Homo sapiens: one gene and its partners. The protein of the gene in region 1 interacts with the protein of each later gene in a pairwise test. Each region holds a gene or a part of one and is shown on either strand. Other genes may lie near its edges. The genes, in order: GSTM4, IGSF21 and NELFCD.

Region 1 (4,337 bases):
TCCTCGTGGCCACTGTGGCCCCTACTTTGGAGATCCTGCTGGTCCAGTTCTTCCCGCCTTCCGCAGAGCCGTACTCCTCCTTCTGAAGAAGCCACCTGGGACCTGGGCCCCGTCTTCCTGGCTCCTCAGAGTCCTTGCAACAGCAGGCACCGCTTCTCTCTCCTACACTCAACCCCTCTCCCACTCCACTGCCTCTCAGTGTGCAAAAACAGTAAGAAGTGTCCCGTATTTTCAAAATCTCTCCCCTGTAGTTCCCACCTGACTTCTAGTCGTAGGTGGCCAAAGTACAGTGTTTTTGAAGGATTGTTTTATTCCCAGTGCCTGGAATATGGTAGGATCTCAACAACTGTTGTTTCAATAAAGGAATGACCAAATGGGTGAATACTAATGTAACAATATCAATTCTGTTTCTTTCATAATTATTCTCATAAGTGTTAGCTTTCTTAAAAAATCATCTTCACAATTGGACCTAGACATTTTATCTTTCCCAGCTCAAGATGGATAAACTCAGAATGACAGGCCAGGCACCGTGGCTCATGCCTGTAATCCCAGCACTTTGGGAGGCGGAGGCGGGTGGATCACTTGAGACCAGGAGTTCAAGACCAGTCTGGTCAACACGGTGAAATCCCATCTCTACAGAAAATACAAAAAAGTTAGCAGGGCGTCGTGGCGCTCGTCTGTAATCCCAGCTGCTCGGGAGGCTGAGGCAGGAGAATCGCTTGAGCCCGGGAGGCGGAGGTTGCAATGAACCGAGATCGCCCTACTGCACTCCAGCCTGGGCAACACAGCGAGTCCCCGTTCCAAAAAAAAAAAAAAAAAAAAGACTCAGAATGACACATTCTTAATGTCTTAATGTATAATGAGAAGTATAACTATTCAGAAGTCCAAGCACTTGTGTGTGCATGGTGCTATCGTCTTGCTGTAGGCAAACCTACATGGGAATCCACCTTGACACATAGGCCACTTCCTGAGCCTGGACCCAGTCTCAGAGCTGGGGAACTGGCCCAATGCAAAAGGGTCGGGAGCATCTGCAACAGAGACTGAGCTCTATCAGCTTCGGTGACATAGCCTCCATTCACGCTCCCCAACTCAGCAGAGAGAGCACACCATCAGACTTCTAAGACTTAGTAGCCAAGAAGTGTTGAATTAAACTCTCTGAGACCTCTCTTTAGTCTGACCCTGGCAGCCTCAGTCTCCCAGAGCCTGTGGGAACTCGGCAGCCGAGAGGCAGAAGGCTGGGCGACGTCCGGAGAAGAAGAAACGGGGGAAGAACTTTTCTCTTACGATCTGGCTTTACTCTCACGCGCACAGCCGAGTCCCTGGGGACCCAGCAGAGGTCCGAAGCGGAGCGGGGCGGGGCGGGGCTACGGAAGCTGGCGAGGCCGAGCCCCTCCTAGTGCTTCCGGACCTTGCTCCCTGAACACTCGGAGGTGGCGGTGGATCTTACTCCTTCCAGCCAGTGAGGATCCAGCAACCTGCTCCGTGCCTCCCGCGCCTGTTGGTTGGAAGTGACGACCTTGAAGATCGGCCGGTTGGAAGTGACGACCTTGAAGATCGGCGGGCGCAGCGGGGCCGAGGGGGCGGGTCTGGCGCTAGGTCCAGCCCCTGCGTGCCGGGAACCCCAGAGGAGGTCGCAGTTCAGCCCAGCTGAGGCCTGTCTGCAGAATCGACACCAACCAGCATCATGTCCATGACACTGGGGTACTGGGACATCCGCGGGGTGAGTGAGGGTCCGCTGCACTGTGGGACCGGGCGCGTGGGCGGGAAGTGCCGAGCGGCTGGGGACCGGCTCTAGGGACGGTTCCCTCCTTAGGGCTATCTCTCACAGGAGGGCCTGTGCATGCCTGTGTGTGTGTGTGTGTGTGTGTGTGTGTGTGTGTGTGTGCGTGCGCCGGGGTGGGGGGGGGGTGCAGTGCAGTGTAGACTAGGGGCTCACCTGGTGCAGAGAAAGTCACCAAGTCAGGGACCCTCCATCTCTGACACGACCTGCGGGCCATCTCTTCCAGCTGGCCCACGCCATCCGCCTGCTCCTGGAATACACAGACTCAAGCTACGAGGAAAAGAAGTATACGATGGGGGACGGTAATGACACCCTTGTGTCCGGGCTCTGCCCACTCACGCTGAGTTGGCACCAAGCAACCCATGGTGGCCACCTGTGGCTACCTCTGCAGGCCTCCCCTGCTGGAGCTGCAGGCTGTCCCTTCCCTGAGCCCCGGTGAGGGAGTCCTGTGGCCTTGCAAGGCAGAATGCTGGGGCGGGATGCTGGGCCCCCTGTTTAATTGGGTTGGGTGTCCCTCAGAGCTTCCCTAAACCCTGGAAGCCTTAGCCGTGTGGGGTCCAGAGCCCTCAGCGGGATTCTTTGTCCCTGAACCCTGGGATGTGGGACTGAGTGGTCAGATTCTAGATCCACCTGTCTCAGGGATCTTGCCACTGGTTCCTTGGGAGGGTCCCCGGGAAGGAGGGCTGGGCTCTGGGGAGGTTTGTTTTCACTTCTTCTTCCCCACGGCAGCTCCTGACTATGACAGAAGCCAGTGGCTGAATGAAAAATTCAAGCTGGGCCTGGACTTTCCCAATGTAGGTGCAGGGGAAGGGGCGGTTTTGGGGGAAAGTGCGACGTGTCTCTGACTGCATCTCCTCTCCCCAGATTAGAGGTGTTCGGATCAGGAGTCTTCTGCCCAATTCCTCTCACTCCTGGTTGTCTACACAGCCCCTGCATGATGTTCTGTGTCCCAGCTCATTTGTTCATGTGACAGTATTTCTATGTCAGGCCTGCCATGAGCGGGCACAGTGAGTGCCTGGTCTCCCCTCTGCCCTTGCATATGGGAAGGGGATGCTGGGGAGCCTGCTGGCCCAACTGAGCTTCCCCGGTTTCCCATCTATCCAGCTGCCCTACTTGATTGATGGGGCTCACAAGATCACCCAGAGCAACGCCATCCTGTGCTACATTGCCCGCAAGCACAACCTGTGTGAGTGTGGTTGGCTGCAGTGTGTGGGGGGAAGGTGGCATCCTCCTTGGCTGGATTGGGGTGCTATGCTCAGAGTGAGTCTGTGTTTTGTGGGTGGCAGGTGGGGAGACAGAAGAGGAGAAGATTCGTGTGGACATTTTGGAGAACCAGGCTATGGACGTCTCCAATCAGCTGGCCAGAGTCTGCTACAGCCCTGACTTTGTGAGTCCCTCCCTGGTCTGGACCAGAAGCCAGGCTTGTATTCCCATCTACTCTGGTCCTATTCACAATTTGAACTCCTCACTGCTATTGATCCTCTGAGGGTTCCCTGTACTGTAGCAGAGTGACTGTCATATCATTAAACTTATAAAATAAAAACTTGAAATCAGTCCCCACCAATCATAGGAAGTCCTATGAAAGCTAGCAATTCAGTTCCTAGACAATAAAGTCATGCGTTCAGAATTCCCTTCACCTCTGACCCCTGACCTCTGCCACGGGCCATCTAACCCAGCTGGTTCATGCCATCTGCCTGTTCGGGGAATACGCAGACTCACACTATGGGGTAAAGAAGTATGTAGTGGGATGTAATAGCACCCTCCTCTGTGGAATTCCGTGCTATTCTTTTCCTAGTGCTTCTCCTTGACACGCACAGGGATGAATGCATTTTCCTAACAGGCAGCTCAGGGGCGGCCAGAGGGCCTTTGTTCCTCTGTCTCCTTCCATGCAGCCTCTCAAAATCTCATCTCTCCAGAAACTACTCAATGTCCATTGTATTATTCTGCCACTGCACTAGGAGGAACTTTCAACTTCTTTCTCTGAGCTCCTTTAGTTCTTTGTATCCTTGATTTTGCTCATGTCTGGGTCCAGAGCCTGCCAGGTACTCAGGTGCTCCTGGGCTGACCCAGAGGAGGGTGGTTGGGAGGTCAGTGGGGACAGATTCAGGGATAGTGTTGCATTCCTCTCTGCCTTCCCATCACCACAAAAGCCTCCAGCTACCCATTTGGAGTGTAATAAATGCTGGTATGTCCAGCTGAAGCCAGTTCCAGCTGTGGGGAAGATGGCTGCTTGCTCGTGGCCAGCTGGGGCCATACACAGCCCTGGGGAGGCCACATCTGTGCAGGGAGCTTGTGTCTGAGGGTGGTGACAGCTGTTTTCTGCCTCAGGAGAAACTGAAGCCAGAATACTTGGAGGAACTTCCTACAATGATGCAGCACTTCTCACAGTTCCTGGGGAAGAGGCCATGGTTTGTTGGAGACAAGGTAATGGGGGCATGTGATGAGGACACTAGAGATTTGCCATACATCCTACGTTACAGAGATTCCAGCCCACACATTCTTGGCCTTCTGCAGATCACCTTTGTAGATTTCCTCGCCTATGATGTCCTTGACCTCC
Region 2 (4,414 bases), about 92 Mb from region 1:
GCCAGACCCGACTCTCTAGCGTCGGGCACCCTTGCTCTGCCACCCAAAGGGGCAGAACCGGCGAGGGCGTTCTGGCCGTGCCCCTCCCCGAGCAGTGACCGCCAGTACGTTCGTGAAGGCCGGCGCGGGTTGCTCCTCTCTGCGCCCTCGGAGGCAGGTGGCCCTGCAAAGCCGCTGCCAGGTGCACCTCTCTCGGCCACCTCCAGGAAGGGCGCCCTCCTCCGGCACAGCCCGCCTCTTGCGTCTCTCACGGACTCTTCTCGCACCCCGCCCCCCATTCTGGGCACAGACTTGGAAGGAGGAAGGAGGGACCCCACCCTCGTGTGCTCTCCTCTGCGGAGAAGAGAGGGCTCCCGGCTGCCTCGGATCTCCCTCTGCGCCCCAGACGCGGAAAGTTTCCCATTCGCGATCCGCGTCTGCGCTCTTCCTTCATCCTGAGCAGCGGAGCTCCGAGGCCGCGCTGGCTGCACCGGCCCAGATGCGCTCACCCTCAGGCACGCCAACCCCCGCCTCCCGCAGCCCGCAGAGGCGGGCAAAGGGATTTGAGGCGTCAGGATGCCGGGTCAGCTCTCTGCAGCCGGGCAGCCAGAAGAACCCTGCTCCCGGGTTCCAGGGAGAGCTCGCAGGGTGGGGTCCTGACGGAGCCAGGGTTTCCCAACAAGCCCTTCTCATCAGTCCTCTCCTTCACCCTGCCGCGTCTCTCTGTTCTGCGCATTCCCAGGGAAAGGGGTGCTTACCTTAGGTCCCCAGCCTCCAACCCCCGCCCCCTGCAATGTCCAGGTGAGGGCTCCAGTGCCTTTCAACAAACCCCAGTGCCCTCTCGGCGGCGCTGGAACGAGGACCTCCCCCATGTAACCTTTCCCTCTAGAGCCCTCCTCCCAAAGTTGAGGGGGGACATTTTGATCCACTTAGGAAAGTCTCTTGTTCCAAGGGTAGGGGAACAAAGTACAGGGTTTGCATTCCTTCTGGGTTACACCAACCCCTCCCCCCTCGCTGTCAGGACCACCTTCCGGGCTCAAATTCTGCAGCTTCTCCCATCAGCAGACCCAGCACTCCCCAAGGACTTCGGGGTAGAAGGAGTTGGGGTTATTTTTAAGGGGGCACCCCTTCCTGGCAGGCACTCTCAGAGCCTAGGTAGGCACCTCCTGCTGGGACAAGGCTATGGCATAGGACAGAGGTGATGCCCACCTCTATCATCCAGTGGGGCTCGGGGTCGAGACCTTATTGATCATAAAGACGACTTTTTGGCACCTCGCGTCCCGCTCCCCTCCGAGGCGGAGCCAGGCTCTGACTCCAGCCAGGCTGAGGTTGGCACCAGGCTCCGAGGAGGATCCCGGACGCGGAGCCTGTAGTCTCGGTGCCTGCGGCTCTTCGCTGGTCCCGCCTCCCTCCCTCCTGGCTTTTAGCCTCACGTTGGCTCTCTGCTCACTGCGCGAAAGGGTTCAGCTCCATTTAAGACCCACTACGCGGCGGCACTGGGTGGGAGGCCGGCCGCGGACCCTGGGGCTGCGGAGCCACCTCTCACTGGCTCCGGAGAACCCGCTCGGCTTCAACCTCCTTCTAGCTGTCTTAGCCTAACCCGGGAGCAAGTCCACACGGCGGGACACACACACACACACACACACACACACACTGAGCTGCTCACAACTCCCCAGCCCCGGAAGCGTCCATACCTCCCTGCACACGATAACCACACGCTCCATGGCACGCATACACACACTCCCAGCCCCATGAAGCCCACGACTCCCAGGCACCTGCACCCCCACCCATCCCACATAAGCAGACTCTTGTCCAGTGTCACAGTCCCATCTCCTGTGCACACAGAAATAGTAATCCGCTGTCGTACACCCCTAGAGACCTGCACACTCGGGACACACGTGAAACGCCAAACCTCACATACCCACCCCCTAACACCTCACACCCACAGTGACACAAGCTCACACACTTCACACCCTCACAGGGAAGGTGGCACATGTTCACACCCTCCCCCCAACATTCGCTCACACTCTCACACACACACCTTCTCCATGTAACTGACACAGACACTCTAACACCCATCCAGACCCTCGCTCACTCACACGCAGACCCCACACCATCACACACACACGCACACACACACTTGCATCTCTAAATACACTCCCGCACCTTCTGCCCACACAGCTCCTTCCCGGACACCCTCACCCAGACACACAACAAAGACACACAATTTACACACACACACACACCCTGGCACAAATCCATGAGCGCTCTCCAAGAGGCGTCCTCCCTCCCTCATCGAGCCAACCAGCTCCACAGACCCCGGGCAGGACCGGTGCTCGTAGCCCGAGCCTCTCGGAGCGACCCCGGCCAGCGCCCTCCCCCGGCACCCCGTCCCCGCGCACGTTCACCGCTCGGCTCCCGCCAGGCGCCCGCGCACTCACCGCGCGCCAGGTCCAGGATCGCGGCGAGCAGCAGGCAGACGCAGCGGCGGAGGCTCGGGGCGGTTCGCATGGTGCCCGGGAGCTGGCGGCGGTGGCGGGGCGGCGGGGGTGGAGGCGGTGGCGGCGGGTCCCCTCGCCATGGGCTCAGACGCGCTCCTGCCTCCGGCCACTGGCCGAGGCGGTGGCGGGCAGCGCGGAGAGCCGCGGGGGCGCCCCCATGCCGCCGCGGCCAGGCAGCCCGGGCGCCCGGCTCGACTCGGCTCCGGCTCTGCGAGGCGCAGCGACCCTCGCGCTCTGGGCGTCCTCGGGGCTCGCCGCGGTTCTCGGCTCCCTAGCTGCGCGCGGTGCCCACCGCGGCCCAGAGTCCGATCGGCTGCAGCGCCGGAGTTTGGAGCCGAATCGCGCTCTCTGCCTCGCGCTCGCCTCTCCCGGCGGCGCGAGCACCCCCCTCCTCTCGCCCTCCCTCCGTCCCTCCCCCTCTCCCCGCCCCCCCGCCCTCCTTGCCCTCCCCTCGCCGCGCTCTCCGCGTATTATACAGACTTTTCTTTAATCCTTTCTGGGCTGTTCGGCTCTCGTCCGCTAAGCCGATTTATTGCAGGGAGAAGGAGAGCTCACCCCCTCCTAACCTCCCCTCTCCCCTCACTCAGGTCCCCCCTCACTCAAAACTGGCTTGCTGCCTCCAGCTTCTTAACCCTTACCCAGGTGACCCAACACCCCGCCCTGGAAGCTATGCTCCATCGGATCCGCCTTTACCTAGCCCCTCCTATCCCCGGGATTACCATCGCCCTCCCCGCTACTCAGCCTGATGAAAGGAGGCAGCCTCCCTCCCGAGAGGGAAAGATGCCATCCTGGGAGCAGGGCAGGCAGGGTGTGGCTCTGGAGTTCTGACCTTGCCAACGATGAATGCCCTCATTGGGCAAGATTAAGGGGTTTCCATGTTCTGAAACTTCCCCAATTACGGCTGCTCCTTCCCCCAGGGACCCACGGAAATGGGGTGTGTTCTGTCTTTTTCCCATGTGCTAGGATCCAGCCAGGAAGGGTGAGGAACTGATTGTTTCCTCCTGGCAGAGACCAAGTTTCCACCTTTTTGCCAGACCTGACAGCTTTTCTTCCCAGGTCCGAGAAGAACAGGTTTGGGACTTGTATGTTACCATTACTCTCCCACCAACACACACGCGAGCACACACACACACACACACACACACACACACACACCATTGAGCCTCAGCCCTGGCGGTGGACTTTGAGGCCTCCTGCGAGGATGAAGGGGAGGGGTACTCTAGCCCTTGGAGTGGACTGGGGATGTGGTTAGATGAGGAAGTTCAGGAGATAGAATTTCACCATTGGTAGGGACCCAGAAGATTGGCAAAGCCCAGAAAAACCAGCACGACCAGGGGCAAAACCTGCTCAGAACTCAGGTGGGTCCCTTTACCCAGGCCTTCTATGGAGAATCTCCAGCTTCCCTAGCTCTGGCAGGTTGCTGAGTCAGGCTGTTGCATCGTTTACCTACATGGGCAATGGGTCTATAGCCAGTTCCATCTCCAGCAGCCCTCTGAGAGGAGTGTAGGGAGTGGGGTGGGCAATGGGTGGTTGCTGGGCTGCCTCTGGGTGAGCTTTGTGCAGAGATGTCCATGAAAGTGAACTGCTCCCTCCTCCTGCCCTCTGGAACCTCACCCCATCGCCTCCCAAGGCAGCTCTGCGGCTCAGCTTGCTCACCCACCCCAGAAGGAGCGATTTGCATTTATGAAGATCTGAAAGCATACGTTCACCTGACAGGCTTTAGAATGATCCTCTCAGTAAAATAATAATAATGATCATAATAAACCCTTATAAATAGGTGTTTGATTACAGTTTGTCCCTAAGTGGGATTTTTTTTTTTTTTTTTTTTTTTTTTTTTTGTGAATCAGACTAATTGGTTCCAGGTTGATTGGACTGCATATGGCTTGAACACTTGATGAACACTGGAGTCTTAGGTCCTTTCTTCTCCCTTTGGC
Region 3 (2,323 bases), on another chromosome or scaffold:
GCTCCCTCTGGCCTGTTTGTAGATCAGCACCTGCCACCAGCTCCTGCACCCCCAGGTCCTGCAGCTGCTTGTTAAGCTTTTTGAGACTGAGCACTCCCAGCTGGACGTGATGGAGCAGGTGAGCAGTGCCCGTGGGGCTTGCCAGAGGGCTGAGGAGGACCCTCTCTAACCAGCTCCCTGTCCCCCTTCTTCTGTAGCTTGAGTTGAAGAAGACACTGCTGGACAGGATGGTTCACCTGCTGAGTCGAGGTTATGTACTTCCTGTTGTCAGTTACATCCGAAAGTGTCTGGAGAAGCTGGACACTGACATTTCACTCATTCGCTATTTTGTCACTGAGGTCAGCAATGCACCGTTGGTTTCATGTTTCATACTGTTTACACTAGCACTGCCCTTTTTGGCTTAATTTAGTTCATTTTGTACCTAACTGAGAACTGTGCTTTCTGATGTAGTGATGACAATGACAGATACTCGTTTACCAAAAAGCACCTTCTGCCTGCAGCAGCTGTATGACACACTTTACCTCCATTACCACCCTGGGCATCTGAATGTTGGAGATGGGTGGTGTCACCGGCCGGTGGGGGTGGGGAGGGATTTTTTCCAAACTGATGGCCATTTCACCCGGATGTCGGTGGATGCCCCGCACTAGTGTGCGGAAGAAGTCACCCTGTGCTCCCCCACGCAGGTGCTGGACGTCATTGCTCCTCCTTATACCTCTGACTTCGTGCAACTTTTCCTCCCCATCCTGGAGAATGACAGCATCGCAGGTACCATCAAAACGGAAGGCGAGCATGACCCTGTGACGGAGTTTATAGGTGAGGCCGACTGCCTAGCCCTTTACTACAATAGAAAATGTCAGCTGGGCGCGGTGGCTCATGCCTGTAATCCCAGCACTTTGGGAGGCCAAGGTGGGTGGATCACCTGAGGTTGGGAGTTCAAGACCAGCCCGACCAACATGGAGAAACCCCATCTCTACTAAAAATACAGCATTAGCTGGGCATGGTGGCACGTGCCTGTAATCCTAGCTACTCGGGAGGCTGAGGCAGGAGAATCGCTTAACCTGGGAGGCAGAGGTTGCAGTGAGCCAAGATCGCGCCATTGCACTCTATCCTGGGCAACAAGAGCAAAACTGCATCTCAAAAAAAAAAAAAAAAAAGAAAGAAAATGTCATGTTCTACTTCCTGTTTCTAACACAGTCACTGTTTTCCTCGTTAAAGCTCACTGCAAATCTAACTTCATCATGGTGAACTAATTTAGAGCATCCTCCAGAGCTGAAGCAGAACATTCCAGAACCCGTTGTGGAAAAACCCTTTCAAGAAGCTGTTTTAAGAGGCTCGGGCAGCGTCTTGAAAATGGGCACCGCTGGGAGGAGGTGGATGACTTCTTTACAAAGGAAAATGGTAGCAGCTTCAGTGAGAAACTGCCCTTACAAACAGTCCCTTCTCTGCTGTCAATCCAATACTGCTCCCAAATCCTGTTTTCAGTGTTCATTTCCCTCAAGGCAGGCGCTGGGCTCCCACGACCCCTCAGGACAGATCTGGCCGTCAGCCGCGGGCCGCTGGGAACTCCACTCGGGGAACTCCTTTCCAAGCTGACCTCAGTTTTCTCACAAGAACCCAGTTAGCTGATGTTTTATTGTAATTGTCTTAATTTGCTAAGAACAAGTAATAAGTAAATTTTTAAAAAGCCTTTCTGCTGGGTTGGATTAAGTCCTGATGTGACATTGTTTTTGTGTGCGAATAAGGCACGGGCAGCCTCAGTCTCGTGCAGAGCCAGATACTTTATTCATCACTTGGGCGATTTGAAACTGCCAACTCCCTCCCTCCCTCCCCCACCCTTGATTCTAAAGTGACATAAGAATGGTGATAAGTCTGAACTCTTTCACCTCTTAAATGCCATATTATTGCCCACAGTTGCCAAATACAAAATATCAAGTCCTCTGCTGAAGAAGACTGAGGTCCCATCGTTTCCTGTGTCGCAGGTCACTTCTTCACCAGGTGGCTGACTGCATCATTGTGAGGCAGAGCCATGCTGTGCAAGTGTCATAAGTCATCCCACTTTCAACTCTCAGGAACACTCGCAGCCAGTGCCACGCTGTCCTCGCCATCCAATATTGATAGCCACCCCAGTTCCTGCCAGCCAGCCTGGCACACATAACCATAGGATCCCCTCTGGTCATGGGTCACCATGCCTTTTCTTAAACTGCGCTTCTAGTGACATGGCCTTAAACGATGGGGTCCCCAAATGTACAGTGCTCCTCGATGGCAAGGTTGTATCTGGCGCCCTTCCCATCCTTATAGGTGCTGGTCACGATCCTCAGCCAGC

Evidence for each region.
Region 2: the proteins of GSTM4 (region 1) and IGSF21 interact in a two-hybrid assay, tested with the Homo sapiens proteins (one large-scale study listed by BioGRID and IntAct).
Region 3: the proteins of GSTM4 (region 1) and NELFCD interact in a two-hybrid assay, tested with the Homo sapiens proteins (one large-scale study listed by BioGRID and IntAct).

What each region holds. Positions count from the first base shown.
Region 1 is NC_000001.11:109,654,706-109,659,042, forward strand, and holds the start of GSTM4 (glutathione S-transferase Mu 4), read left to right. Parts: upstream 1-1,393; 5' UTR 1,394-1,684; coding exon 1,685-1,720; intron 1,721-2,006; coding exon 2,007-2,082; intron 2,083-2,509; coding exon 2,510-2,574; intron 2,575-2,644; exon of another isoform or gene 2,645-2,830; coding exon of another isoform or gene 2,831-2,884; coding exon 2,885-2,966; intron 2,967-3,066; coding exon 3,067-3,167; intron 3,168-4,108; coding exon 4,109-4,204; intron 4,205-4,294; coding exon 4,295-4,337. UniProt on the Homo sapiens protein: Conjugation of reduced glutathione to a wide number of exogenous and endogenous hydrophobic electrophiles. Catalyzes the conjugation of leukotriene A4 with reduced glutathione (GSH) to form leukotriene C4.
Region 2 is NC_000001.11:18,106,205-18,110,618, reverse strand, and holds the start of IGSF21 (immunoglobulin superfamily member 21 precursor), read right to left. Parts: upstream 2,822-4,414; 5' UTR 2,491-2,821; coding exon 2,421-2,490; intron 1-2,420. UniProt on the Homo sapiens protein: Involved in synaptic inhibition in the brain. Selectively regulates inhibitory presynaptic differentiation through interacting with presynaptic NRXN2.
Region 3 is NC_000020.11:58,993,427-58,995,749, forward strand, and holds the end of NELFCD (negative elongation factor C/D), read left to right. Parts: intron 1-22; coding exon 23-118; intron 119-197; coding exon 198-338; intron 339-683; coding exon 684-813; intron 814-1,215; coding exon 1,216-1,250; 3' UTR 1,251-1,687; downstream 1,688-2,323. Other genes in the region: CTSZ (cathepsin Z preproprotein), read right to left, coding at 2,223-2,323. UniProt on the Homo sapiens protein: Essential component of the NELF complex, a complex that negatively regulates the elongation of transcription by RNA polymerase II.